Linked DNA regions of Homo sapiens: all the other regions are reported to be linked to region 1. The links are microRNA targets in miRTarBase. Many come from high-throughput screens and were not tested one by one. Region 1 holds a microRNA gene; each other region holds the end of a gene's coding sequence.
Evidence for each region. Region 1 holds the annotated microRNA hsa-miR-548ax (AGAAGUAAUUGCGGUUUUGCCA, at 2,057-2,078, shown strand). A microRNA usually pairs through its seed, bases 2 to 8, with sites in the 3' UTR of a target mRNA and lowers its output. Matches are read on the target gene's strand: a 7mer-m8 pairs with bases 2 to 8, a 7mer-A1 pairs with bases 2 to 7 and ends in A, and an 8mer does both.

Region 1 (4,070 bases):
ACATCTCCCTTTTCTTCATTAGGGCACAAGATTTTTTCCTATTCCTTTAACTATTCTGTTCTGATACCATAAAAGCCATTCACAATAGGTTGTAGGTGGCTGTAATTTATAATCATTTCAGTAGTAAAATTCATCATCCCTGGGATTATTCCCTCTCTTGTCACACGTTAATTCCTGGCTCCAGATTGTCTTTGCTGTGACTTCATCTGTAAAGATTTGCTTCCCTTTTCAATGTCCGCCTTTTGCTTTCTGGAGATATAACCTTTGTTTCTCAAGATCTGAATGCATGGAATATGAAACTTTCCCCAACTCCACCAGCACAAGTGACCTCTTTCTCTCAACCCTGCAGTTGTTTATCCATTAAAATTACCAATTAAATTTCCTTTTATACATGTCTTGTCTCCCACTAATTGGTAGCCGCTGAGGTCTGAGACAGCACAGCCCATATTCTTTAACTTGACCCTGAGGAGATGCCGGTCTAGCTTTTATTTAGGTTAGGGTTGGCATCTGAGGAACTGTGTTCCTATTGCATGCTGCAGTCATGAGCTAACAGAACGCTTAAATCAAAAGCTGTCAACCTAACATGAAGAGGCATCCACAGAGCTGTCTCTGAGAAGCTTTATTCTTTGACTCACATCTCCAATGTGAGTAATGTGGTTGAAACCTAGCAAAGTCAAAATTTACTTGAAGTGATATGGTGGATCCGGTGCTGTAGATGATGATTGTAGACCTGAAAAAAAGAAGTTACGCGAATAACATCTGCTTTTCTGTGTGATATTTTCCCCCCCAGCTGTTTAGAGAATTAGAAATTGCTCTGTCAAGGGTTTGTTTACAAAAGCCTGGCCAATTTCAAAATGAAGCTGCCTTTGAGTTGTCCCTGTTTCATCTCACTGTTTGGAAAATAAATCTGAACCATTAAGATGTAAATACATCAAGTTAGAAGCCAAAGGCAGTGAAAACCAAGTAAAAGCAAGAAATGTACCACGATTTAAGTATTCTCCTGGGAGGAAAAATATACATGGTAATAATTTTTGTATCTTATAATTTTATTATTAAATTAAGGGGAGAGAAATTTGAAATCAGCATAATATCTATTTTGTGTAGTATTTAACACTGTGATGTATATTGACAATTGATAATGAATCAAAATATGTGCGGGTAACTGTATGTTCATTAAATTAGAGTTTGGTAATGAGATAGAAAGAGAGAATGAGAGGGGTACAGGTGTAAGCAGCAGTTCTCAAAGTGTAATCCCGGAACCATCAGCAGCTGCATCACCCTGAAACATTAGAAATGCAAATTCTCAGGCCCTGTTGAAGACCTACTGAATCAGAAACTCTGGGGATGGGGCCCAGTAATCTGTGTTTTAACAAGCCCTCCAGAGGATTCTGATGCATACTCCAGTTTAAGAAGCACTTCTATGTAGATGGATGGATGGTTGGATGGCTGGCAAGATATGTGGGTACAATGACACATACATATGTAAGTACAAGTATAGGTATGGGTATAAATACAAATATGAATACAAATACAGATATAAATACAGATATTTTGAGAGAGAGATATATAGATAGACATAGATATAGATATAGATATAGATATAGAAATGTGGAGTTACCATCACAGGACTTTTTTAGAGGAGCAAATTATTTCCTTTTACTTATTATATGATTGAATAAAAGCTGTTCTTTTCTCTAGGCAATGGGTCTATCATTTATAAACTGAGAAAATCTACTGGTGGTCCATTTGTTGAACCATTTTCCATTAGGTTCACTTAAAGTGTTTGTTCCATCAAGTCTGCCACCTGGGTGGTTTCCTTCACTGCAAAACTGGTTTGCTCTTCCCTCCCCTCTGTCTTCTTGGCAGCTGCTGTCTGCCCTGGTTCTTATCCATTGGTAGATCTGATTGCTTTGGGGACTGGATCAACAGTTGAATCCTCACAGGATTTTGAAGCCAACAATATCCTACATATTGGTCCATTTTTCAGAATTTCTTCATTTGTGTTTTATCCTTCCATTTTTCTTTCTAAGCATATATAATTTATTTAGATTGGTGCAGAAGTAATTGCGGTTTTGCCATGGAAAGTAATGGCAAAAACCGTAATTACTTTTGTACCAACCTAATAATTTCAGCCAACTATTCATATGCAGCACTGTTTACAATGGGGATGAATAAGTAACAGCTAAATATCTGATAAAAGGGGATGTTTTAAATATAGTAGATTGCAAAATAATATGATACTTTTTGAGAAGAAAATTTCAATATGCAAAAAATATAGGGGATAATATTCATTAAGACATAATCAATGATTGTTGGATTATGGATGATTTTAATTTTACTCATTTTGCTTATTTTTATATTTATGATTACATTAGTTGTAAGCTCAAATTGCTGTTATAAGCAAAGATAATGCAGATTTATATGTATATATATAAAACAGTAAAATAAATTGATTGTATTTTTTATCTTCTTCCTTTCCCCACTATGCTATGAACTTAAAGTCCAGCAATTATGCCAGCTGTATCTATTCATCATTTTTCACATTAAAAGCAATATTGCTGGATAGTAGAATTAAATGACAACTCTGCTTTTGGAAATGACAGGAAGTCTGCTGTAAATAGATAATTGATGTAGACGTTAAAGCCAAATAGAATTTCCATTTATGGAGAAGGGAATATTTAAGGGTATGTGGCTATAAGAAAATATTTCCTTTTGCTTTTAACACAAGATGTAACATGACTTGTCATGCTCAGGATGTGTTTTGAAGTGGATAATGGCACTTTCCCTAATATTTGGAGGCACCGGGCTTGATCCTCTTTTGAAGGCCTTCCTTTGAAGATAAACATAGACATTGGTTTTAGCTTAATTCTCCATCCCTAAAATTCCTTCCTGCTCTAAAATTCTATAATTCCATAACAACAGTGTATAAGCAATAATTATGAAATGGAAAAATGAGCCATTCTACTTGCCATCCTTCATGTAAAGCTGTACTATGGAATCCTGCTCTAAGGTGGGGCCGGTGTCATTTCTCCAAGCAGTATGATGCCCTGGAAGAAAGCAATGTACAGTGGCCTGTGATTCTGGACCTTGGATCACTTTGATGCCCTTGGCTTATAATAAAAGCAAAATCCATTTAAACCACCTTAAATAATTAGGAATTTTAGAGGCTCATGTCACCAAAATCCATAAGTATGTAGGGTTTCATCCAGTGACTTGACCTTTTTCCTGCAGTGCTCTTCATTTTATGTCCCTCTAAGTGTCACCTCTAGGCTGATAGCAACAGAACCTGTGGCAGTTTGGGGATAAATATGACGATGTCTAAGCTAGTGTTTCTCAACTGTGGGTGACCACCCCAGGAGACATCTGGCAAAGTCGGGAAACATTTTTGGTTGTCACAAGTGGAGAGGTGCTACTGGCATCAAGTGAGTAAAAGCCAGGGATGCTTCTAAACATCTTCGGTGTGCAGGACAGCCCCACCAGAGAGAATGATCCAACCCAAAATGTCAATAGTGCTGAGTAACTCTGGCATAGAAGAAGAAAGGTTTCCTCTGCCTATAACTCACTTACATTCTAGGAAACATTTCCAAAGGCTTCCAGCCACATTTCCCTCACATGCTGGTGCCTATAGTACAAAAGGCTTTAGGCCTGGGTTCTGAGATCAATCGTGGGTGGGGAACAGTATTACCAAGATCAGCTCACTGAGCCCCAAAATGCATGTGGCATGTCCATGCTATACACTGTCAACCAGAACAATAAATACCCGTCATATAATAGTACTATTTTGTTATTAGCAAGAGAGGGGAATTCAGGCATCATTACTATTCAGCCCTAAAAAAGAAGAAATTCCTGTTATTTGCAACAACATGGATGAATCTGGAGGACACTGTGTTCAATGAAATAAGCCAGGCACAGAAAGCAAAGACAAATGCTGCACTTTCTCACTTACATGTGGAATCTAAAAAAGTTGAACTCATAGATGCAGAGACTAAAATGGTGCTTTCCAGAACCTGGGGGTGGGGCTGAGGGTTGGAGAGATGTTGGTCAAAGGATGCAATATTTTACTTAGACAA
Region 2 (4,070 bases), not on the chromosome of region 1:
TTTTCCACATTCTTCATAGGTGTACATTTTTTTTCAAGTATAAATGCTTTCCTATGCGATAAGGTGTGAGTATTGGTTAAATATTTTGCCACATTCTTCATAGTTTTCTCTAGGATAAATTAGCTTATACTCAAGTGTGACAACCATTTAAAGGCTTTGTGACATGACTCACATCTAGGGCTTCTTGACACTATGATTTCTTTTATGTTTAGAAAAGTTTAAGGTGTTCTCAAGAGCACTGTCATGTCTTTTAGGTTTGTAGAGCTTCTCTCCAGTATGATTTGATAACTTATTAAAAACTTTGCCACATTCGACCGGGCTCAATGGCTCATGCTTGTAATCCCAGCACTTTGGGGCACTTTGGGAGGCCAAGGCGGGTGGATCACTTGAGGTCAGGAGTTCAAAACCAGCCTGGTCAAAATGGTGAAACCCCGTCTCTACTAAAAATACAAAAATTAGCTGGGCGTGGTGGCAGGCGCCTGCAATCCCAGCTGCTTGGGAGGTTGAGGCCAGAGAATCGCTTGAACCCAGGAGGCGGAGGTTGCAATGAACTGAGATTGCACCATTGCACTCCAATTTGGGCGACAGAGTGAGACTCCATTTCAAAAAAAAAAAAAAAACTTTGCCACATTCTTCACATTTGTAGAATTTCTCTACAACATAAATTATCTTATGTGTAATAAGGGTTGAAATGTTTTTAAAGCTTTTGTCACATTCTTCATATTTATAAAATTTATCTTCTGTATGAATTCTCTTATATTTAGTATGAGTTGAAGACCAGTTAAAGACTTTGTTACATTCTTCACATTTGTCGGGTTTCTCTTCAGTATGAATTATCTTAATGTGTGGTAAGATGTGAGAAATGGTTACAGTGTTTGCCACATTCTTCATATTTGTAGGGCTAGTTTCCATTATGAATTATCTTATGTTCAGTAAGGTTTGAGGACGTTAAAAGCTTTGCAACATTCTTCACGTTTGTAGGGTTTCTCTTCAGTATAAATTGTTTATTAAGAATTGAAGAATTAGGCTGGGCACGGTGGCTCACGCCTTTAATCCCAGCACTTTGGGAGGCCGAGGCGGGCAGATCACCAGAGGTCGGGAGTTCGAGACCAGCTTGACCAACATGGAGAAACCCCGTCTCTACTAAAAATACAAAATTAGGTGGGCGTGGTGGCACATGCCTATAGTCCCTGCTACTCGGGAGGCTGAGGCAGGAGAATCGCTTGAAAACCCAGGAGGCGGAGGTTGCAGTGAGCCGAGATTGTGCCACTGCACTCCAGAGCCTGGGCAACTAGGGCGAAACTCTGTTTCAAAAAAAAAAAAAAAAAAATTGAAGAATGCTTATGGCATTATTCACATTTGTAGGGTTTCTCTCCCATTGAATTATGTTGTTTAGCAAGAGTTGAGGACTGGCTAAAAGCATTGCCACTTTCTTCACATTTGTAGGGTTTTTCTCCAGTACGAATTTTCTTATGTCTAATAAAGTTTAACTGATTAAAAGCATTGCCACATTCTTCACATTTCTAGAGTTTGTCTTCAGTATCAACTATTTTCTGTTGAGTAAGGTCTGAAAACCAGTTAAAAGCTTTGCCACAGTTTTCATATTTGTAGGGTTTCTCTTCAGTATGAATTATCTTATGTTCAGTAAGGTTTGAGGACCAGTTAAAAGTTTTGCCACACTCTTCACATGAGGCGGGTTTCTCTCTAATTTATCTTATATTCAGTAAGATCTGAGAACCCGTTAGAAGCTTTGCCACATTCTTCACATTTGTAAAGTATCTCTCCAGTATGAATTATCTTATGTTCAGTAAGTTTTGAGAAGCAGTTAAAAGTTTTGCCAAATTCTTTAAATTTGTAGTGTTCCTCTCCAAGATAAATTATTTTATGTTGAGTAAAGTTTGAGGACTGGTTAAAAGCTTTGCCCATTCTTCATATTTGCAGTGTTTGTCTCTACTATGAATTATCTTATGTTCAGTAAGATTTGAGGACTGATTAAAAGCTTTGCCACATTCCTCACATTTGAAGGGTTTATCTTCAGTATGAATTATCTTACATTCAGTAAGATTTGAGGACCAGTTAAAAGCTTTGCCATATTATTCACATTTGTGGAGTTTATCTTCTTTAGGAATTCTCTCATTTTGAGTAACAGCTGAGCAATGGTTAAAAGCTTTGTCACCTTTATTATATTTGTAGGGTTTTCCTCCAGTATCAATTATTTTATGTGTATTTAAGGTGTGAGGACTGGTTAAAGGCTTTGCCACATTCTTTACATTTGTGGGGTTTCTCTCCAGCATGAATTGTTTTCTGCCTATTAAGGCTTGAGGACTGGTTAAAAGCTTTGCCACATTCTTCACATATGGAGGGTCTGTCTCTAGTATAAATTATCTTATGTGTATTAAGGTTTGTAAAATGGTTGAAAGCTTTGACACATTCTTCACATTTTTAGGGCTTCTCCCCAGTATGAATTATCTTATGTTTAGTAAGGGCTGAAAGATGGTTAAAAGCTTTGCCACATTCTTCACATTTGTAGGTTTTCCCTCCAGTATGAATTGTTTTATGTTGAGTAAGGTGTGAGGACTGGTTAAAGGCTTTGCCACATTCTTCACATTTGTAGGGTTTCTCTCCAGAATGAATTATCTTATGTTTAGTAAGGTTTGAGGACTAAATGCTTTACCACACTCTTCACATTTGTAGGGTTTCTTTCCAGTATGAATTATCCTATGTTTAGTAAGGCGTGAGAAATGGCTAAAAGCTTTGCCACGTTCTTCACATTTGTAGGGTTTCTCTCCAGTATGAATTGATTTATGTTTAGTAAGGTGTGAGGATTGCTTAAAAGCTTTGCCACATTCTTCACATTTGTACGGTTTCTCCCCAGTATGAATTATCTTATGTTTCATAAGGGTCGAGAAATTGTTAAAACCTTTGCCACATTCTTCACATTTGTACGGTTTCTCCCCAGTATGAATTATCTTATGTTTCATAAGGGTTGAGGAATTGTTAAAAGCTTTGCCACATTCTTCACATTTGTAGGGTTTCTTTCCAGTATAATTATCTCATGTTTTCTAAGGGCTGAGAAATGCTTAAAAGCTTTGCCACATTCTTCACATTTGTAGGGTTTCTCTACAGTATGAATTACCTTATGTTCCATAAGTTTTGAGACCACTTAAAAGCTTTACCACATTCTTCACATTTGTATGGTTTCTCCCCAGTATGAATTATCTTATGTTTCCTAAGGGCTGAGAAATTGCTAAAAGCTTTGCCACATTCTTCACATTTGTACGATTTCTCCCTAGTATGAATTAGCTTATGTTTCTTAAGGGTTGAGGAATTGTTAAAAGCTTTTCCACATTCTCCACATTTGTAGGGCTTCTCCCCAGTATGAACTGCTTTATGTCTAGTAAGGTGTGAGGACTGCTTAAAAGCTTTGCCACATTCTTCACATTTGTATGGTTTCTTCCCAGTATAAATTATCTTATGTTTCCTAAGGGTTGAGGAATTGTTAAAAGCTTTGCCACATTCTTCACATTTGTAGGGTTTCTTTCCAGTATGAATTATCTCATGTTTTCTAAGGGCTGAGAAATGTTTAAAAGCTTTGCCACATTCTTCACATTTGCAGGGTTTCTCTCCATATGAATTACCTTATGTAAAGTAAGTTTTGAGGACCACTGAAAAGCTTTACCACATTCTTCACATTTGTAGGATTTCTCTCCAGTATGAATTATCTCATGTTTTCTAAGGGTTGAGGAATTGTTAAAAGCTTTGCCACATTCTTCACATTTATAGGGTTTCTTTCCAGTATGAATTATCTTATGTTTTCTAAGGGCTGAGAAATGCTTAAAAGCTTTGCCACATTCTTCACATTTGCAGGGTTTCTCTGCAGTATGAATTACCTTATGTACAGTAAGTTTTGAGGACCACTTAAAAGCTTTACCACATTCTTCACATTTGTAGGGTTTCTCTCCAGTATGAATTATCTCATGTTTTCTAAGAGTTGAGGACTGGCTAAAAGCTTTGCCACATTCTTCACATTTGTAGGGTTTCTTTCCAGTATGAATTATCTTATGTTTCCT
Region 3 (4,070 bases), not on the chromosome of region 1:
ATTTGGAAATACATCAATTATAAAACTATTATGCTTCAGATGCCTTTCCTTAGCCAACATATTCTTTGGTGGAAAATCAGGAAAACTTTGTACCTTGGAGAATGTGACCCAGTGATAAATTCAAATTGTGTTGCCTTTCAGATTTTGAACTACCATAATTAACAGCTCAACTCCATGATGTATACATTTCTTTAAAAACTAGAATAGCAACTGCTCTCACAGTCTGGCATAATTATTCCCAAGGGGGAAATATGTAATAAGAAGTTTTAAAATATTCTCGGGAACTCTTTTCTAGATCACTACTAGACAGCTTTTGAGTCACAACAGGTATGTTACCCTGTTACTAATAATACAGAGCAGCACAGTGCAGTCATCCCTCACCACCAAGGTTTTTATTCCAAAACAGTTATTTGGCTAGACGTGAACCGTTAAGATACGGGATCAATGGAGTTACAATAAAGACAATGAAAGTGACAATTTATTAATACACAGTAAGTTCTAGAAGGCATCTTTCAAAACAAAACTTGATTTCTTTTGTATTTACATTTTTTGTTTCAAGTCTTAGCAAAATGCTAAAAGGCCTGGCCTAGTCACAATTACTGACATCCTTCTGGGACACAATTTTCTGGGCCTGTGTTGAATGAGGATAAATTATCTTTTCTCTAAAATGCCACATGAACCCTCTCTATATTCCCACATGAAGAGGAATGGAAGGTAATTATTTGGTCTTTTCTTCTGTTTAGGGGAATGAACTGAACCACTCATTTTTTTAAAATCACACTTAAAAGACACATGGGCAAAAAAGTTCCCCAAAACTACTGTCTTACCGAATTTGAGAAGGGAGGTAATGTATGAAGCTTAACAGCTGGCTTCAAAAGACACCTTTCCAAAGAAATTGTACTACCTCTATTAACGTGTAAACCACCAACCAAAAAAAAATAATAAGTTACTCCATCAAACACGTTATTATCCATAAAAAAGACTTCAACATTGTACTGGAAGATCTATTTAAGCATAAATAGTACTAAGCACCAATTACTAATCTGAAGGCCTCCTCACAGGTCCAAGGGCAATGAGCAACCTCAAGAGGCAGGTGACTGCACAAGCAGTAAGCTATGGATTAAAAATTAAAAGGATTTCACATTCTTTCCAAAGTGTACTGCCCGGTGTCTGGCACACGCATGTTACAATATGACAATCTGCTCTATTTGTGAGCACCTGAGTGTATTACAGGGGATTACACATGCATATGATAGAATCTGGCTCCCGGTACAGTCAAAGGAGAACAGCATCAGCCACCAAATGTGCTGATCTTACACTGAAAAGGGTTGACTGAAAACATTTCAAGGGTAATGTAAACACAAGAATAAAGCTGTGGGTCTATTACTTAGTGATGTGGTTTTATATGCTACATACGTAGACCTCTCTTTATACAATGAATATGGACAGTGCTGCAATAAAAACTGATGACACGTCAAATTGTTCACCTGAAGAAAAACCCTATTATAGTTCAGAAAATAATGCAACCAATTTTAATTTAATCTAGATACAGGTACTTTATTTACAAATATTTAGATTAATAGCATTTTGTTACATCAAATGAAGAGTACAGCAGTCTGAATAAATCCTTCAGTCACAAAAACAATAAAACCCACTGTAACTAACTTTGGGAGTCAGGGTATTGCACCTCAACAAGCCGCAGTCTTTAGTTTGTGATTGCTACCTTATATCCCAATGGGTGGTTTGTTTGTTTTGTTTTTGTAAATATACACACACACCAGCAGGTCATGGTCCCTGGGTGAGTCCCTTGTGATGCAACAGTGTAAGCAAAATGGATCACTGTAAGTCTTTAACAGAATATACCAATCTACTCCAGAAATCTTATTTTTTAAAAAGTTAAACAAAGACAAAAATAAAAATGAATCCACAAATTAACCAAAGCCTACTTTCTGCACATTCCAGTTTTGGCTTTTATTTAACATTGACTATACAATACTCTGGTACTACCACATGTTTACAACCCAGAAAGATGTACTTTTATGTTAGTGTCTGTAAAGAGGGATTTAAAATGTGTATTTTAAACACAGCAGTTGAGCTGAGTGCATTTTCTATAGTACGCTGAGGTGTTACCTATTCTATTTCAAATAAATTCTCAATTCCCAGCCACTGAATCATAAATGCAATAAAAAAAATCAACAGAAATGAAGAACTTAATAAAACATGTTGTCCAAAAAAATAAGATTGTTTCTCTTGCTATACAGTATTAATTCAGTGGCCAAACCACCTGGTGCAAAGTAATAACTTACTTTGTATCAGCACAAGCGCTGAAACACCTTTAGAAACACTTTCCCTTTTACAAAACAATTTATGCCAACATGACATAAAACAGCCCCTCACACTGTGAACACAGGGATATCTTAAGTTATTTCACTGTAGGGTTAAAAATGCACAATTTAAAATCCCTTAACAGCAGACCTGTGGTTCTGACTGTCCAGTTCAGAATCTGACCATTCCAAGAAGATAAAGGTATAAAAGCTTAAAATGTGCAATAGTAAACCCAGCCTTTTTTCTTTTTCTATACAGTAAGGCAAGAATGCAGCCTGTAATGCAAAAACGTTTACAAAAAGAGAAAAGCAGGTTAGCACATTGTCGATTGCACAAGAACAGTTAAGAAAATCAGCAGGTAAGCAACAGTGCAAAGATGGAACAGAATCTGCTAGTGTTAATCCTCTGATGCTAGGAGCTCTTTCCAGCATAATGTCCCCAAACACTGCCAGCACCAAGGGGTGGAGCCAGTACTACTTGTGAACTGCAGTTGTGTCTATTTCTTTGTGTGAAATGGAAGGGAGTAACATGGTCACATATAGGTCATACTGTACAAACTGGTATTTTATACTGTTCCAATGCCAGTAATCAATTTATTTTCTTCATTAAAATAATATACACAGAATGTATTGTTAGTTCGATTCCTTCAAATTTTATACATATTTACTTTCTGTTAAAGAGAAAAGGATAAAATGGTATAAAAAAAGATAAAGCTATTAATTAAGCACGAGAGAGAAGATAAATGGATATTTTCCCTGTGTGAGGCTAAGACAGAAGCAAATCTCGTTAAGAAAAATGCCACCCACACAACAGGAAATTTATCCAAAACAAAACAAAAGCAGTTATAGAACCCCTTCTCTACCATCAGAAGTAATTTCACAGCAATAAACTTATTGGTTACAACAGACATACTTGAACAGTTAAGGATGGGAAGAAAGGCTTAAGATATCACCAAATTAAACCGTACAGTGAGACAAAGCCTTGCCAAAGGGAGGGTAAAAATCATGAAGTCCAGCATCAGTGCTCGGTTTAAATCATATATTGGTGACATACTTATCACGAGGACAAGGGGGAAAAAAAGTCTAGATTTACCATGCAGGAGAGATTTATTACTCTACTTGCCTTTGATAACCTGATTACATCTAGTTGTTTAGCAGTTTAGTATTGTGTTAAACTGTTTTTACAACAGAGTTTTTTCTTTTTTTTTAATTAAACCCAGTAAGATGTACAGAAGACAATGAGGCAGTAAAAAGTACTGCTTCCAACAGACAGAGGTGAAAGGTCAAATGAGGGGCCACAGCAAAGAGGTCACTAGCAGCCACAGCCTTCTCTCTGGGGTTGGGGTTCACTGGTTAGCCGGCCTCCCTGCGGGGCTGAAGGTTTGTGTTGTACACCAGACTCAGCAGCATTCAGATCCAAGCTTCCATCCTGAATGTTCTGATAGATTTTCTTGGCAGCCTCAAGGAAGGCATCTTCTACATTCTCTCCCCTAAGAGGCAATTGATAACTTTATTGGAGAACCACAGTTTTCTACAAAAGACAAGACACTGACCTTTTGCTAATCTTTAGTTAACTGCCATGATGTCTCCAACTTAACCACTGTCATCTAATAAGAGATTACCAGAACACTGAGCTAAGAGAACATGGAAAACTATTTTCCTTTTTTTTTTTTTTTTTTTTTTGAGACAGAGACTCACTCTGTCACCAGGCTGGAGTGCAGTGGCCCGATCTCAGCTCACTGCAAC
Region 4 (4,070 bases), not on the chromosome of region 1:
TTGTTTTGGAATTAAGCACTAAGTGATGAAGAAGGGAAAAATGTAACTACCATCTGCCAGGCACATAGTTTTATGTAGTATTCACAGTACTTCTACTATCAGTATCCCCAGTTTTCAATAATAGATGAAGAAACAGTGAGACATGATTAACTTGCCAAAAGGTCAAGTAGCCAAGCTAGCATTTGAACTCCCACCTGTCTAATGCCAAAGTATGTGCTGCATAAACTATTTCAAACTGCCTCTGAATAAACTGTTCAGGTAAGAGTCCTCCAGAGACCTTTTAAAGCCTTAGCCACAATTCTGTAAGCCATGTGAAGTAACTTACCTTTAGGGAAGATCTTCCAGTTCCCTTTGGTCTGAAAGATGCAGATATTTAATTAAACATTATACTATGCTTCTATTTTTTTTAACACACTGGAAATAACTTTTAAAAGCTGCTACATTTTTATTGCTGAGAAATTATTGTACTTCTTTTTAAATATATGCTAAAGGGGAGCGTAAACTTAAATTCTCTTTAATTTGCTCAACCAGAGGATATAATTTAAAGAAATTGGGGTTTACCAAGATTTTCCATTTGTCCTCCAACACAGCCTTGGCTTGATAATAAGCATACAGTATTTGGACGAGTGACTAAAGGAATGGAAGTTGTACAGAGGATCTCCAACGTCAAAGTCAATCCCAAAACAGATAAGCCCTATGAGGATGTCAGCATCATAAATATTACTGTCAAGTAAAATAAGATTTGTTTTAATGTACTTGCAAATAAAAATACAATATTAAACAGATTATTTTACATTAGGAAGCTTAGGACTTGCTGAATATACAGATCATGTTTCAAAGATACAGTATTTTTGTATTTTTTATTAAAGGCTATTTTTTAAAAATTACCTTTGACTTTTCTCGCAATATTTCTAATCCTGGGAGGTGATAAATTGAAATGGACTAAACTCAGGCAAATAGCACTCATTATAGGTAATTTCTAATCAGCCTCAAATTAAATATTAAATAATTACAGTACTCTCCTCCACCCCCTTTCCCATGGTTTTCTTTCTACTGTCAACCATGATCCAAAAATAGGTGAGTACAATACAGTGAGATATTTTCAGACAGCAAGACCACATTCACTAACTTTTATTACAGTATACTGCTATAGTTGTTCTATTTTATTGTTGTTAATCTCTTACTGTGCCTAATTTATAAATTAAACTTTATCATAGATATATATATATGAAAACACAATATATATGGGGTTTAGTATCATCTGAAGTTTCAGGCATCCACTGGAGGTCTTAGAAGGTATCCCGTGCGATGACAACTCTATTAAATAATGACAGTGGTACACAACTGTGCTTTAATTTTGAATACCTGCCAGATATTCCGCCCTTATGTTTAGAAGAGTGCAGATCCCTCCTATAAGAAAAAAATACTAGGATATGATATTATATGTCATTTCCTTTGTTTTACAAGGTTTCAATGCCAAATATTTTAGTCTTTTGATAACTGTTTAGTAAGTAGTGGTGAGTAAAGCCTCAATAAACAGGAAGTTACTTTGGTCAAAGTGTTATATTCCTTAATAATTATGAAATATTCTTTCAAATGAAAGATTCAGAATAAGTGAATACCTGAGTCCTTAGTTTATTATATGCAGGTTGATTTTCAGATTATTTTTCTAACATAGGTAAACAATTTTTTCTGTCCTCAAGTTATAGTATATCTTTAGAAAATATACCATTAAGAAGTATACATAAAAATTTTGGTATCTAACAATGGAGAGATTAGTAGAAATTGGAGCAGTAAAACAATATGAGCACAAATTCTTATATTGATCTTCTTCACTTACACTTATAACTAACTTCATAACTATTAAGACTCACTGCTTCGTTTCCAGAAAGAAAGACTCTTTCTTTCAGAAACTTACAGGAAGAACATTCTCAACAGACCTGTGTAGGGAATTTATATTCTTAAGTTTTAAATCGGCTTAAACTTTTCCTTCTATTGATCAGCAGGATTCTTTATTTATTTCGTGCTACAAAGTTGTGAGATAGATAGGAGATTATGCCAGATTGTGCTCCTGTAATGTATGCTCCTTTTTAAAAGTAGAACTTAAAGTTAGACATGAAAATGACTTTTCAATGTGACATTTACTGTTTCTAATTTTAGTTGTTTAGTCTTACCTACCTAGCTTTATTCATTCCTAAAAATTTAATCTAAATTTTTGGTAATATTGCCACCAAGTGGTGATGATGCCTCATTCCCCAACAAATACAATTATTTTGCTTTGAGTGAAAACCATATTTGACTAATGAATTTTTCGATTAATATCAAAAACTTAATCGGCAGACCTAAAAACATACATTGCCCATGTCTTTTTAAAAGCATGTTTTAAGTTATCAGGATATAATTTCATCCTTATTCATTAGTCCTTTTCATCCTTTATTCTTTTAGGGAAGAATACAGCTGTCTTCTTCTTTGTTAGCACTTTGCCAATTGAGAAGTATCCCAGTGTTACATAAAAAGCCTTTCTCTTAGCAGTATTAGTTCATGAGCTACCACTAAGTTTTGCAAGCCATTTTCTAAAATGGTCATTTAAAATACTATGTTTTCTTATGAAACAAGTTTACATTTAAAATTTAAAAGGCAGTAACAAAGTTTCACTTCGTTCAATGTAAAACTTTAGCTCCGCCTTCAAAACACTATGGTTATATTACTTATTTAAATGTGGCCTGCACATTACTTCTCGGCCTTTTGGCTAAGATCAGGTGTAGTTAAGATCAAGTTTAGTATCTGTTCTCATCAGTAAATGTGGCCTATGTTGCAAATTCAAAACGTTATTTCTAAAATTTTGCTGTATCAAATAAACTACATCTCAAATTTGACAGGCATGCCAACCCATACCCATTTTGTTTTATTTTCTCTCCTAACCACAGCACAAATAATGACTTCTTAAATTGGTTACAACTAGCAATAATATTAGGTAGATGGTTCAAGAAAGAGACTTTCAAGAATAATGATGGGACTTCTTAAAAATGATCTTAACATTTTATTGCTGTCTATACTTATCATATATGTAGTGCAAATAATGGCTTCTGATGGTTATAAAGCATTCCTGAATTATAGACTACGGCTATACACTTGACATACCTGCTTTATATAACATACAGTAATATTTAGACCTAATACAGAAATTCAGCTACTAGGAAAATTCTAATATACTGTATATAAAAAAGCTCTCTTCTTAGTTTCCCAGGGAAGACTAGCACAGTCTTAACTAATGATTAGTGAAATAATACAACCACAAATAGTAATAGGAGCTTGAGAAAAATATTTCTTTAAAAATGAATCACACACAAACACCTACCATTATACATACATTATAATCAGGCACAATTTTTCAACTGTGTTCAGTTATATGCTAAGAATGTGCATTACAAAGTTTAGCAAAATTAGTGAAAAGGGAAGCAAGTTCACCTTAGTGTTACACTTTTTCTTCAATTAACTAGTAAACAGTTCAAGTTCTCACAAGCAATACAACACCTTTTTTATTTTTCACAGTTATTGAAATCAGTCAAATATTAAATAATTTAATTCGGAAGTATTATTTATGCACACAAACTACACCTGTAACAGCATGACCTTTTACCTGAAAAATAAAGGATGAAATATTACATTTATTTATTTACATATTGCCCATAATACTGATAGGCTTTTTTTTTAATGCTTTGTTTTCTAAAACTTGTATTGTTTTTAAACAAAAATAGATTTGAAAAGAATGAACCACAACAGTGCTACCAAAAAGTCACATCTTGTTACCAGACATCACTGTCCTTACAACAATTCAACTAATAAGATTTAAGATTTAACTTCATCCTAATGTATCAGAACATTAAAAAAAAAAAAGTCTCAATGTACCTATTTAAATAAATCGTGCTTCCATAATAATATTCTTTAAAAATGAAAAACAGTAAAGAGCACACATTTTTATTTACTCACAACACTGAATAATTAATGTAAACTTTTTGAATTTTTTTTTTCTTTAGACATTTTTCCTCTAGAGTAACTTTTCAAGGCCT
Region 5 (4,070 bases), not on the chromosome of region 1:
ATCCAGGCTGCATTGGAGCAATTCTAATAAAAGAAGGCAGTGCTGCTAAGGGAGAAGTGGTAGGAATCTCCCAGAGAAGCCCCAGGTAAGTGTAAAGAAGTCTAATTGTTGGTGAGGAGAGAATACAAAATTATCTTAGGTAGTCTCTGGCTCAACAACTTTATGTTATGGATGAAATACATTAAAATAGGCTGGGTTTAATTTCTAGAAGTATATTTCTGACGCTGATGTATAGCACAATTTGCTCTACTGAATTATCATTGAGTATATAATTTTAGAACCTGGAAAATACAGTGTTTTAGTAGTCACATAAACATTATAATGAAAATTGAGTTCTATTTTCATTTGGAGTGAAAATGCATGCTAAGTTGAATTCAAACATTGAGTATAGTTTTTAATAAATTCTAAGATAAAAATAGCATATTTGATTCCCTAGAAAAGAGCAATGTTTCTATTTTATAGCGACCTTAATGCTAGTTGTCTTGATTTAAAGAGAATCAGGATGAAACACGTATATATCTCAGTACAACCAAGGACCATAAATGGTAAATGCCGAGTTGATTGATATTGTGATTTTTAAGTTTTATTGATTAAATTCAAACTTTTTTATCATTTACACAAAGAAACTGTGACAGACTCTGAGAGGACTAAAAGGCATCAACTTAAATTTTAACATGCATTTATTAAATTTATATGCAGATGACTACACTACTGCAATTACAGAAATGAGTAAGAACATACTCTCAAGATCTTACAGTCATTGGTTGGGGTGAAAGTATTTCTTCTGTCTTCATGAAAAATTAAAAAGATAGAAAATCTTGAAGTATTTTGCTACCTTAAAACAACTACCCACCCTACATTTGTACTAAAATAGGCTTTTGCTTGTTTTAAAAGCAATTCTAGATGAGGTTATATTTTTACAATACTGTATCTCATCTCAAATAAATTTATACATTCTTTACCCTGTCTAAACTTGCATGCAAAATAAGAACCAGCAAGCCTTCAAACTTCAATCACAGTATTCCATAGGCTATATTTTAAGTCTATTGCATTAGTTGAAATTTATTTTGCAGAGTATGTTAACAAACATATTCTAACACTTAAAAAATCATTACAATTTTTTCTGTTTTTGTCTTCTAAATTACTCTGAGCAGTGAATTACTGGAGGGAAGATACCCATGTCTAAAATTTGTGTCTGGTGCCAGTCTCAGATTTCTGCCAAACACCAGTAGGTATTCAAAAGTGTGGTCCCTTTAAAACAGCAGGCCGGATATCACCTTTCTGTCTTCAAAGATTCAAACCAGACTCCCAATCTGGGATTTCTCTACAGAGGGTTGGCTGCTTCCCAGTTAATGTGAGTTTTGCAAAGTTTGCATTTCATGAAAACAGTGTTGTGTAAACATATATTGTGTCACTTTACCTACTATTTACTAAAATCAGAGAGTTTAGCCTTTGAAATTTATGGTTCTCTGGAGCTATCATAAATCAATCAGTCATACGAATGGACTAGCTGTAGACTCAGGATATCAATAAAACTAGGCAGTGAAATTTGCCTATAATTATACTATATTTAGATTAATAGTTATCAAAAACATTTTTCCCCAAAAAATACCTCAAGGGTAAAACAGAATGGTAAAGTTTTTTTCAGGATAATGAATTTTCAAACATTTCCAAGACCATAACCAGCCATTTTAAGTACTGTAAACTCTGTTATATTTCATTTGGATAAGTATCTAATAAGCAATTATTACATATCCTCTCATTTAAATTACCACTGAAAACTAGAAATAATCTTTATTTAATACGACTGTTTTAACACCATATGGAACGGGAAATAACTAAATGAAAATTGTTCACGTAAATGTGATGGGAGTGGGGGGGTGGGGAGCAGTATTTCTTGACATGTGGCATGTCACTCAGGAAAGTAAAAGGCCCATCATATCCAAAATGCCAGCTTGGATATTCCCTTGCCACCCACTTGACGAACAGACATACCACATGGCATTAAATGCTGCAACCTTTCCTAAAAATGCCACTTGGATTGGTCCGCTGTGGTGAGTATATAAGAACTCTTGGTCTGTCTCTTGAGTCTGTGAGTTCAAAGGGAAGAATCTAGTAAATAACACCGGCTAAATTTTGCCCTCAGATGTTTGGCATAAATGATTTGTGAGGATATTGGAACCTTTGGCTGTTTTCACACCAATGAAATAAATTATGCTACTTGAAAAAAATTCTACAGAACATAATGCTACACAGTCACAGTCGACTTTTTGCAAAAGTACCAGAGAATATCTTTTAGAAACAGTGCTTATAAAGCCCCATATACTCCTTAGATATTTCCCAAGGATTTCTTCTCTTGGCTAGCAGGAAAACAATCTTAATATTTTATTTATTCTTCATAAATACAATGTATATAATATAAAACACTTTGTGCACATGTTTCCAACAATTTCATTTTCTATGCATCTTTACATAAGGTAGTAGCTAATAACTCTTTCTGTGGACACGTATTTTCCAGTTTTCTAAGGTTTATGTGTTCAAGCATTGTAAAAACATATTTAAAAATTGAATTACCAGTAAAAATATTGAATGTACAGGTCATTATGCTCCCACAAATACAAAATACATTGAAAAATTATATCAACAGATAATTACATATGAAATATGAGGCATATATTTTCTTCTATTATTTATTTTCTCCCTAAAGAGTTCTAATTGATTAAATCTCAAGAGACAAAATGTAATTTTATAAAACAACTGTATTGTTCAGATTTAGGAGACAACCTAAGAAGATGATTCTGAGTAGGTAGGATTTTTGCTATTACTGTTATGTGAAAAAGACTGCTCAATTAAATGACAGATTGTTACATATCTCCCTAACAAGAGGGGCGAACTGATACTACAAGCAGCCAGAACAACATAATTAGAATAGAATTCCAAGGTTATATTAATAGAGTAATAAGTTAATTAAAACCAAGATCAACTGAGCTTCTATTTACACCAGTTCAGACAGCCCAAGAGGAAAAGAACTCTATTTTAGAGACATATGTGACTCTTTGAGCTTCTGTCATCCAGGTGCCATTTCTGATGCAGCACATGTGCACTGAACAGTTGGCAAAGAAGGAAAAAGATTATGGTAGATGTATGTGCAGATAGTCTCTCTAATGATGTAAAATACGTCCAGAAAGAAAGCAGGGCTTTGTTGTAAAATAAAAAATTTCCCATGACTTTTTGTTCTTTCTGAATGTGATTTGAGCATGTTTCTGTAAATAAGAATATATACTAACTTATGATGTATATAGAACAAAAATAGACTTACTCATCAGGAAGTGATGGAATTATACACATAAATTGGCAATGACATTTGAAAAATTTAGGATCTGGTTCCCATTTCATCTAAATGTACCATGTATAGGGTGGCTGTCAAAGCAGAAAGATATATAAAAGTATCCAGTAGCACATACTATACTGCATTGCTAGGTAAGGTTCTTTTCCTGACATCCTATGCAACTATCAAAAATCATATGTCTGCAAACTGAAAATATTAGCAGAAAGAATTAAAGATGTTACAGTTTCAGTATTGAAAGTTTTGGTCCCAAAAGGTGCTTTCGTAAAGTTATTTCTCTTTCATGCATTGATTGTTGCTTAGCTAATCTTCATCTTGGTCCAGATCAGGGTCAACATCCGTGGTGAGTCTGAGATAAAAGAAAGCATAGAAAGCCAGTAGTAGTGCCAATATAGCTGCAAGTACAAGGCCAACTTCCTGGGAAGAAAAAAAAAGTAGACTTGAAATTGATGAAAAAAGATTGGTTAACATTATTAGTTTCACCAGATAAAATAACCATATTGTTCCACAGTCTAGAATGAATAATTTGAACCTAATAATCATATCCTTTTTGTTTACCATTTTTTGCCGTTAAGAAACTGTTTTGTACTGGCAAGTCCCAATGAAATGGCAAATACACCAGTGGGTGAGTCATTAGTATTATTATTTCTAGCTAATTTGTTTTTTCCTTATAGTAATATTAAAAATGTATCATTTTAATATATTTTTATAGTTTGGATATCAG
Region 6 (4,070 bases), not on the chromosome of region 1:
GTCTACCTGAGCGACCCGTGCCCCGGCCTCTACCTGGCCGGTCCCGCTGGGACCCCGGCGCCGCCACCGCAGCAGCAGCCCGGGGAGCCGGCGGCCGGGCCACCCGCCGGCTGGGGAGAGCCGCCCCCGCCCGCCGCTCGTGCCTCTTGGCCGGAGACCGAGCCGCAGCCGGAGCGCTCCTCCGTCTCAGACGCGCCGCGGGTAGGGGACGAGGTGCCGGTGGCCACGGTGACTGGAGTCGGGGACGTTTTTCAGGGCGGAGAGGCGGACGCGACGGAAGCTGCCTGGAGCCGCGTGGAGGGGCCGCGCCAGGCGGCGGCCAGAGAAGCCGAGGGTACCGCCGGAGGCTGGGGCGTCTTCCCCGAGGTATCTCGTGCCGCGCGCCGCCCCTGCGGCTGCCCCCTAGGCGGGGAGGACCCGCCGGGTACACCGGCCGCGACCCCCCGCGCTGCCTGCTGCTGCGCGCCGCAACCAGCGGAGGACGAGCCCCCCGCGCCGCCCGCGGTGTGCCCCAGGAAGCGCTGCGCGGCGGGGGTGGGCGGCGGCCCAGCGGGCTGCCCGGCGCCCGGCTCGACCCCGCTCAAGAAGCCCCGCCGGAACTTAGAGCAGCCGCCGAGTGGAGGAGAGGACGACGACGCGGAGGAGATGGAGACCGGGAACGTGGCTAACCTCATCAGCATCTTCGGTTCCAGTTTCTCGGGACTCCTACGGAAAAGCCCCGGGGGCGGCAGAGAGGAAGAGGAGGGAGAGGAGAGCGGTCCGGAAGCCGCCGAGCCCGGGCAGATCTGCTGCGATAAGCCGGTGCTGAGAGACATGAACCCCTGGAGCACAGCCATCGTGGCCTTCTGAGCCCTTGGCCCCCCTGCGGGGAGGAGGTGGAGCAGCGGGCGTCCCCGAAGTGAGGGCCAGGCCCTTCCCGGCTGCGAGGACGCCCAGAGACCGCGGGCGCTGAGCGCGTTGGGCAGACTGGTTGCCTCTGGGCATCGCAAACTGCCCCCGGGCGCATCTGGCTTATCTGGAGACCTGGGAGCTTGAGGCTCATTGGAAGAGGACGATCGTTAACTTTTGTGTTTGTGTATGTCTGTGTATGTAAGTTTGTCTTGTGGCATTAAGACTATTTTGCTCTTCTGGAATGCACCACTCCTTCCCCAGGGTTTAAGAGATTGGGGGCAGACAGGGACTTTCCTCTGCCGGCTGCGTGGAGAAGGAAGCGGCTAAAAGGTTTGGGCCGGGGAGTTCCCCATTCGTTCTCCGGGGAGGGAGGGACTTTACACCTACCCCTCACCGGAAAGCTAGACCCGCTTCAGGGCCAGGAGTGGCGTTTCCGCACAGGATTTCCTAAGACGAGAGGGATTTAGCCAAGAGCACAGACTTGGATTCCTTCTGTCCCTCCCCACCTTTCTCTCCCAATGAAGAAACGTTTATATCCTGTGATTACTCTAGGAAAGGGGCGTATTAACGGTCCTTTGCTTCCCCGCAGGGGAGAAAAAGCTTGACGAACTTCACAGAAGAGTTCAAGCTTGGAAATAATGGAGTTTATAGAGAAAAGATATATTTTTAAAAGCTCTAGGTCAGAAGTACTACACAGTGCTTTTAAAAAGTGTTTAATGAGAGTTTACAGACAGAAGCCCGAAGTGGAAAGACCTTATGGTTTTGTAGATATGGTGACTCCAGTCTTTGTTGTATAAAGGTTGGGGGAGCTGATAAGGTTTTTGTACAGTATTTTCTCCTTCGTTGTATTGATTTTTGTATAAAAATGTAACTTCTACGTGTCTAACACGTATTAAATATTTTGAAGCAACGTAACTGCCTGCTTGTCTGTAATAACCTGCCTGGGTTGGGAGGGAAGTGGGAGGAGGGAAACCAGGGCCTGAGCTAGAAAATTGAAGGTGTGGTTCTTAGTATCAGTCATTCGCAGACTGAGGACATTGTTTACTGACTCCACTAAGTATCAAGAGAGACACGTTTAATTTTTCCTCCTAGATCAGAGGACTGCTATTAGATACTAATATCGGCGACCTGTCAGGTTCTAGAAACCTGCCACTACAACTGCCTTTTCTAAGGTCAGTTTAGACCAATTTGTCACCCAATATGTGGGTGTCTAATACTAAGTAATTTAACCAACTTTTGAAGCCCCGCTTATCCACAAAAATGTTTTTCAGCAAAACTTTGTTTCCTGTTAAGCTATTAATACGGGTCATCTTTTAGCTTTGTAATTGAAAAAAAAAAAGTTTAGATAGTAGTTTACCTTAAAAGCCCATTCGAACTGACATAGGAAGATGAAAGAGACTGACTTGTCCAAATTGTCAGGTCCACCTCTGCATCACAGTGGATGTCAGGATGTAAATTTTCAGTTTTTCTCTTACATCTAGAAAGTAAATATATTGCTGAGAGGGAAATTGTTTGCATCAAACCAGATAAGGAAGGAGGGCTAGGCAAATTTAGTTCTCATTTAGCAAAACTTCCTGATTTGTTTTGTTACTTAAATGGTGACATCAGTGTTTGGTCATGGTAGACACTTAGGTGATGATAGCCAAAACATCCATCGATTTTACTAAAATCACTGCCATTAAGAGAGTTTTTTGTCTCTTCATGTTCAATGTTTGAAAGGTATTCAGTAATCTATTTCAGAAGCAAATCAATTAGGGAATGGTGTTTATTAAAATACGGTACAGTTGCCAGGACTTTAAAAGATGGTACTGGTTTCTAACAACTTACGAGTATATAGGGTATTTAAAAGATGGGAGAGATTGAAGAAAGACAAAGGTTTAAAGGTCATAGCCTTCGAGCATAAGAGGCATATGAATGGTGTCTTGGCCTTAACTCCCAATTATACGAACTTCTGTTTTAGCTGAATAGGCCAGTGCCTCGTGCCTTGATATTTCGGCAAATCTATTAGTGGTTCCTTAAGCATAGGGAACTTTGTACTTTATGCTCTGTCGCCATAATAATGTATTTATAGAATTAAACATTCTCAAATTAGGGTCTTGTTAAACTGACTTTTTCTTTCAGAAAGTAGCTACTTAAATTCTGTTACAGCTACAAAAGATCCATCAAGTGCTGACTGCTTAAACTGAAGAAGGTGTCCAGGGCCTTAATTCTGCAAACATTTCCTGTTGTTAGAAAGTATGATGCTTGAACAGCGATCTCAGTGTATTTTATGTTTTAAAGGGGGTAACGTTTGGTGTGTTTAAGAGAGCTGATGTGTTTTGGATGAGACTAAAGTTGATCCTTGGTTTTACATTAAGATGAACCTGGGTCCATGTGTCTGCTTAAAGAATGTAAATTGGCATACTTGATAGGAGGATAAAGCTTTGTAGGAATTAGAAAAGATCATTCTCTTTTTTGTTGCAGAAGCAGTATAGTATAGTAGTTAGAGCATGGGCCCTGGAGCCAGGCTGCTTGGTGTCTTCCTTTATTTATTTATTTATTTAATTATAAAAAGTAAATATAAAGTGAGCTATGTTGACCAGGTTCGTCTTGAACTCCTGGCCTCAAGCAATCCTCCTGCCTCAGCCTCCCAAAGTGCTGGGATTACAGGCATGAGCCACCACAACCTGGCCTGCTTGGGTTTTTCTATCTTGGCTCTGCCACCTAGCTGTGGGTCCTTGGACAAGTTACTTCATCTCTCTGTGCCTCAGGTTTTTCAAATGTAAAATTGGGATAATTGGATCTGTCTCATAGGGTTGTGAAAATTAATGAGTTAATGCTCTTAGAAGAGTACCTCATATGTAATAAGCACGCAACTGTTAATTATTGTTAATGTAGAAGTTAATTCTGTGTATAAATCAGATACACTGTGGTCAAAGATTTGTGTGTATTTGTAAGAAAAGAGGAGAATGGAGAATCTATTTTTAAGTGGTCCTATGTGTGAATGCTGGGTTCTTTTATTCCTCTTTTTCTCTGGACACTTGGCAGTCAGGAAGCTTTGTTCTACCAACATAGTTTTGTTGCTGTGAATGTCTCACACCAACCGGATGATTTTTCCAATTGTATCAAACAACTCTATTTTCAGGGAGGAGTAAGCTGAAGTGAAAACAGGCAAGGAGCAAAGTTCTTGTTGACATACA
Region 7 (4,070 bases), not on the chromosome of region 1:
TGAACAAATAACTAACATGAGCAGGCTGTGATGAGCGGTATAGTAAAGTATAGGGCATAATGAACATGAACATGCTGGATGTGTTCCTTCCTCTTGTTCCTTTGCTTTTTCTTAAATTTAGTGTCCTGTCAGATGTCAGATTAATAGTATTAGATGCTTAATGGATTTAGTATACATGAAATAGTTCGTTTTGTAAAAAGTAATTTGAAAATAGATATTTTCTATGATATGAGGATTAAATGGAAAAACAAAACAATTAAAATTGATAGCGCCTTTTAAATCACATAGTTGGCAGAACTGAGGCAGAGATTGGACCATGCTGAGGCCGATAGGCAAGAACTCCAAGATGAACTCAGACAGGAACGGGAAGCAAGACAGAAGTTAGAGATGATGATAAAAGAGCTAAAGCTGCAAATTCTGAAATCATCAAAGACTGCTAAAGAATAGAAACTGTTAAAGAGATTCATCTGTGTATTACTGACAAGGTTTTTTTTGTTTGTTGCTTGCTTTGGTAATTGAATTCTGAAGAATTTATCTGCATGACGATAACTAGGCATTCTATCCATTTGTAGATCAGAGAAAGTGAAGAGATTATATATTAGTACTTAAATTTTTACATTTTCCAAATGAATGAAAATGTATGTTTCTTTGTACTTTTTTAAAAAAATCAGCTTAGTAACAATACTATATGGTTTCAACTAGTAGGTAATCTGCTTATATTTCTAATGCAAACTTAACAATTGTGTACTTTTTAAAAGCTGCAATATGTGTTGGAAAATAGCTGTGGTCAATTTTGTTATCCATATTTCAGACTCAATTTTAGATACAATGGTGGCTTTATATTTTAAGTATATAGAGCTACTCAAGGAGTTGAATCTCCCCTTTTCTCATTAACACAATTTTTCTAAGTTGATATGGTGTACTCATTAACATACACCAAATTTACTTTTACTTTGTTCAGATTGTGGAATGAATTTCCACCAGTTCTCTTCTTTTTAATGTGTACCCTAGGAGGAATTTTACTGAGGTTATAGCATACCCCATGAGCACAGTGGGGAAGAAGAATGTGTTGTTATGTGCTGCTGCTAAACAGAAGCAGCAGTTGTAATTTGTTTTTCAGTTTAAATGTGGTTATAGTTAGATTTTTTTTTAAGCAGCAACTTTTCAAAAATAAAATGTGATAATTTCTGAACTTTTGTTTGTGTTGTTAATAGTGGTGTGAAAATATTAACGTTCTTGAGAAAAACTGATACCACTGTTGTGTATCAGTTTCTATACAATCCATAATCCTCCTGTACAGTTTTTACATGTAGTTATGAGTCTTACTAAAATTTATATAATGGACTTGTTTTCCTTTAAGTTGTAAAATGTTAAACACCTTGAAGGTTATTTTGGACTTCTGTATGTTTAAATGTTGTCTTACCAAAATTTGCACGAATGGACCATTTTCATTTACTACTTAATATCAAAATCAGGAATTTACAGTCAACTGATAGTACATGATAGGTGCATATAGGACAGTTTAGTTACCTGCTACTAAAAGATTTTTAGATAAGTTTTAGAAGATAAAGGAATTCCATAGTTTCAGGAGGGACAACATCTTCTGCACTTTTTTTTTGCACAGAAAAGTCTGTCATTCTCTAATGGCAAATTTCATATTTGTTAATTCTTGGCTCAAAATATATTAGGTAAAATTCTTAGATCTGTTTTTAAAGGGAGTTTCCTGAAACTATCATTAATTGACATTATTACCCCATGGATTTTATGGGATAATAAATGTTTTTCATGTTCTCTTATAAGATACTATGTATGAAATTACTTCAGAGAGCTATATTTATTTTAAAATAAATTAGCTAGGGTTAAGGTTATATTCTATTTCCAGCATAGAAGGTAGATAATCTAATGGTGTAGAAAGAATCACTAGGTTGTCATTTAACCAGTTATTTTCATATTTTGCTTAATAGTACATATCCAAAAAGAATTTTGTACTTCCCCAAATGTAATTTATTTACTAAATTGAGTATAACCTAAATGTGTGTTTTCTATTTTCCATTTAAATTTTGCTATATTAAGACTAATTTAATTCGTTGAGTCTTGGAATCTTCTCAAGGAGGAACAAATATTAAAATGACATGTAGAAACAAATTTTTTTTTTTTTTTTTTTTTTTTTTTTTTTGAGACAGAGTCTCGCTGTCTCCCAGGCTGGAGTTCAGTGGTGCAATCTCGGCTCACTGCAAGCTCTGCCTCCTGGGTTCAAGCCATTCTCCTGCCTCAGCCTCCCGAGTAGCTGGGACTACAGGCACCCACCACCACTCCCGGCTAATTTTTAGAAACAAATATTTAAAATGACATATTCTCCCAATACAATCTATTTAGATCTGGAGAAGGAAAAATCAGATATTTATGATATAGTTTTATTTTAATTTTGAATTATTTGTGTCACAGCTCAGCTTTTTGGAAGACAAACTCAAACACCTATAATTTCATTTATATTTCTAATTCACTTGGAACCTTTCTGCTTTATGTTACCTAGAAAATGATAATTTGTTTAACCCAAAACTTCTAAAATAAATTGCTTAATCCTTGAAATATGTTATTGGAAAATTTTAAGCAGTGCTTAAACACCATTAAATTATTATGAACTTGTAATTCAGAATTGAGTAAAGAAATATTTTTTCTAGTCCTTCATATATTGAAAACTTGCCACATGACATTGTATCGTCTTCATTTTCCAGAAGATGCGTTGGTGTGCCATAGGTTTCTAACTTCCTTGAAAATAGTTTTTTAAGTCAATTGTAAATATACGTATTATTGTTAAAAGTAACTTTAAACTGCAACACATAGCTTCAAAACAATATAGAGATTTTGTAATACCTTATAAGTGGAGTTGGCTAAAATACCTTATCCATATAAAACTTATTCTATTCTTTGCATGCTTATTTTGTGTGTTGGTTGCTAGCTTAAAGTTTGATTTGTTGTTACTCTTTGTGTGCCAAATTCACTAGGCAAGCGGATTTTTCCTCAGACTTCAAAAAATAATTCTTTTAAGAAAAAATGTAAAAATGTTTATTCTAAAAAGCTGCATTAAAGGGACAACCTATAAAAAGTTTTGCTAGCTCATCTTTAGAAGGAAGAAAGAATATTAGCTTGGGTGATGTTTAATTTGGGTGGCGATAGTTTCTGTAGGCTAAACTTTATGAGAAAAGTGTACCTACTCTATAAAGGTAATAAATGTAAAACCTCTTGCTGTTATTGAGGAAGCTCTTCAACTACCCTAAATTTCACAAATGTAACTTATAACACTATGAAAAGATTTGACCAACAATTTACGTTTGCTGTGTGCTTTAGTTTTTGTTTAAGCATATTCTTTTGCTTGAATTTCTGTGTTCATGAGAGTTAGGGTGTTTTATGCTTCTTGAACTAATTTTATAACATATTTAATATATTACCAGTTAAGATATAAAATCATTTGTACATAGCGAATTGTAAAGCAGCTATTAAAGTAGGTGAAATAAAGTATATATTTGCCGGTTATCCATATCTTTTAGAAGTCCTGACAGAACAACCAGTTTATTTGCACATAGGTAGCTTCTGTTTGAAGGAAGGTAAAGTTATAAGGAAACTCAAATACTATAAGATGTGTCAAGGTATTTCTCCAGAATTAATTGCAAAGCTAGTGCTGAAGGATTTTAATCAGCTTCTAAAATTTTCTTCTCAATAAGGCATATGTTTTGATTACTTAGGGAAGATTCCTCATTTTTATTTGCCCTTTATGCATTTAATCCACATGATAGGACATTAAAAATTAATATAAAGAAAAATCGTGCTCATACTGTACATCTGTTTCTGTGCTTGGAACTACTTGTTAATAGTTTTTATCGAAGCTGTCAGCAATAAGGGACATAAAACTGCTGTATTATACATTGTGGAATTGAATAAACAGCCTAATTTTTTTTTTCTAGTATAGGGTACTTAAGCATTTCCACTTTTGGAAGAAAAGTGTATTAGTATTTTATATTGCATTTCATTTAAAAGGACAGTTTTTTTTTTTTTTTTGTAAATCCATTCAT

Region 2: the mRNA of ZNF99 is a reported target of hsa-miR-548ax. The part of its 3' UTR that is shown has no 7-base or 8-base seed match.
Region 3: miRTarBase lists RAB14 as a target of hsa-miR-548ax. Seed matches in the 3' UTR shown: 7mer-m8 at 3,193-3,199.
Region 4: miRTarBase lists PPWD1 as a target of hsa-miR-548ax. The part of its 3' UTR that is shown has no 7-base or 8-base seed match.
Region 5: miRTarBase lists TRIQK as a target of hsa-miR-548ax. Seed matches in the 3' UTR shown: 7mer-A1 at 820-826.
Region 6: miRTarBase lists IER5 as a target of hsa-miR-548ax. Seed matches in the 3' UTR shown: 8mer at 3,618-3,625.
Region 7: the mRNA of SKIL is a reported target of hsa-miR-548ax. Seed matches in the 3' UTR shown: 8mer at 1,816-1,823.

The regions. Positions count from the first base shown.
Region 1 is chrX:11,316,664-11,320,733 of GRCh38, reverse strand. MIR548AX (microRNA 548ax) reads left to right here and starts at 2,048; the gene lies at 2,048-2,120. All of the region lies in intron 1 of ARHGAP6 (Rho GTPase activating protein 6), which reads left to right.
Region 2 is chr19:22,753,763-22,757,832 of GRCh38, forward strand. ZNF99 (zinc finger protein 99) reads right to left here. Exons shown (of 4, transcript NM_001080409.3): 4 at 1-4,070. The coding sequence ends at 3,552. Among named protein-coding and RNA genes, the nearest start is that of ZNF99, 28 kb to the right of the region's middle.
Region 3 is chr9:121,177,760-121,181,829 of GRCh38, forward strand. RAB14 (RAB14, member RAS oncogene family) reads right to left here. Exons shown (of 8, transcript NM_016322.4): 8 at 374-3,814. The coding sequence ends at 3,637. Among named protein-coding and RNA genes, the nearest start is that of RAB14, 22 kb to the right of the region's middle.
Region 4 is chr5:65,586,663-65,590,732 of GRCh38, forward strand. PPWD1 (peptidylprolyl isomerase domain and WD repeat containing 1) reads left to right here. Exons shown (of 11, transcript NM_015342.4): 11 at 591-887. The coding sequence ends at 734. TRIM23 (tripartite motif containing 23) reads right to left here. Exons shown (of 11, transcript NM_001656.4): 11 at 3,028-4,070. Among named protein-coding and RNA genes, the nearest start is that of PPWD1, 25 kb to the left of the region's middle.
Region 5 is chr8:92,882,973-92,887,042 of GRCh38, forward strand. It overlaps TRIQK (triple QxxK/R motif containing), which reads right to left. Exons shown (of 5, transcript NM_001171797.2): 5 at 562-3,763. The coding sequence ends at 3,650. Among named protein-coding and RNA genes, the nearest start is that of TRIQK, 81 kb to the right of the region's middle.
Region 6 is chr1:181,089,038-181,093,107 of GRCh38, forward strand. It overlaps IER5 (immediate early response 5), which reads left to right. Exons shown (of 1, transcript NM_016545.5): 1 at 1-3,863. The coding sequence ends at 849. Among named protein-coding and RNA genes, the nearest start is that of IER5, 2.4 kb to the left of the region's middle. RefSeq lists silencers at 22-181, 382-601, 1,176-1,470 and an enhancer at 992-1,161.
Region 7 is chr3:170,391,971-170,396,040 of GRCh38, forward strand. SKIL (SKI like proto-oncogene) reads left to right here. Exons shown (of 7, transcript NM_005414.5): 7 at 289-4,070. The coding sequence ends at 447. Among named protein-coding and RNA genes, the nearest start is that of CLDN11, 25 kb to the right of the region's middle.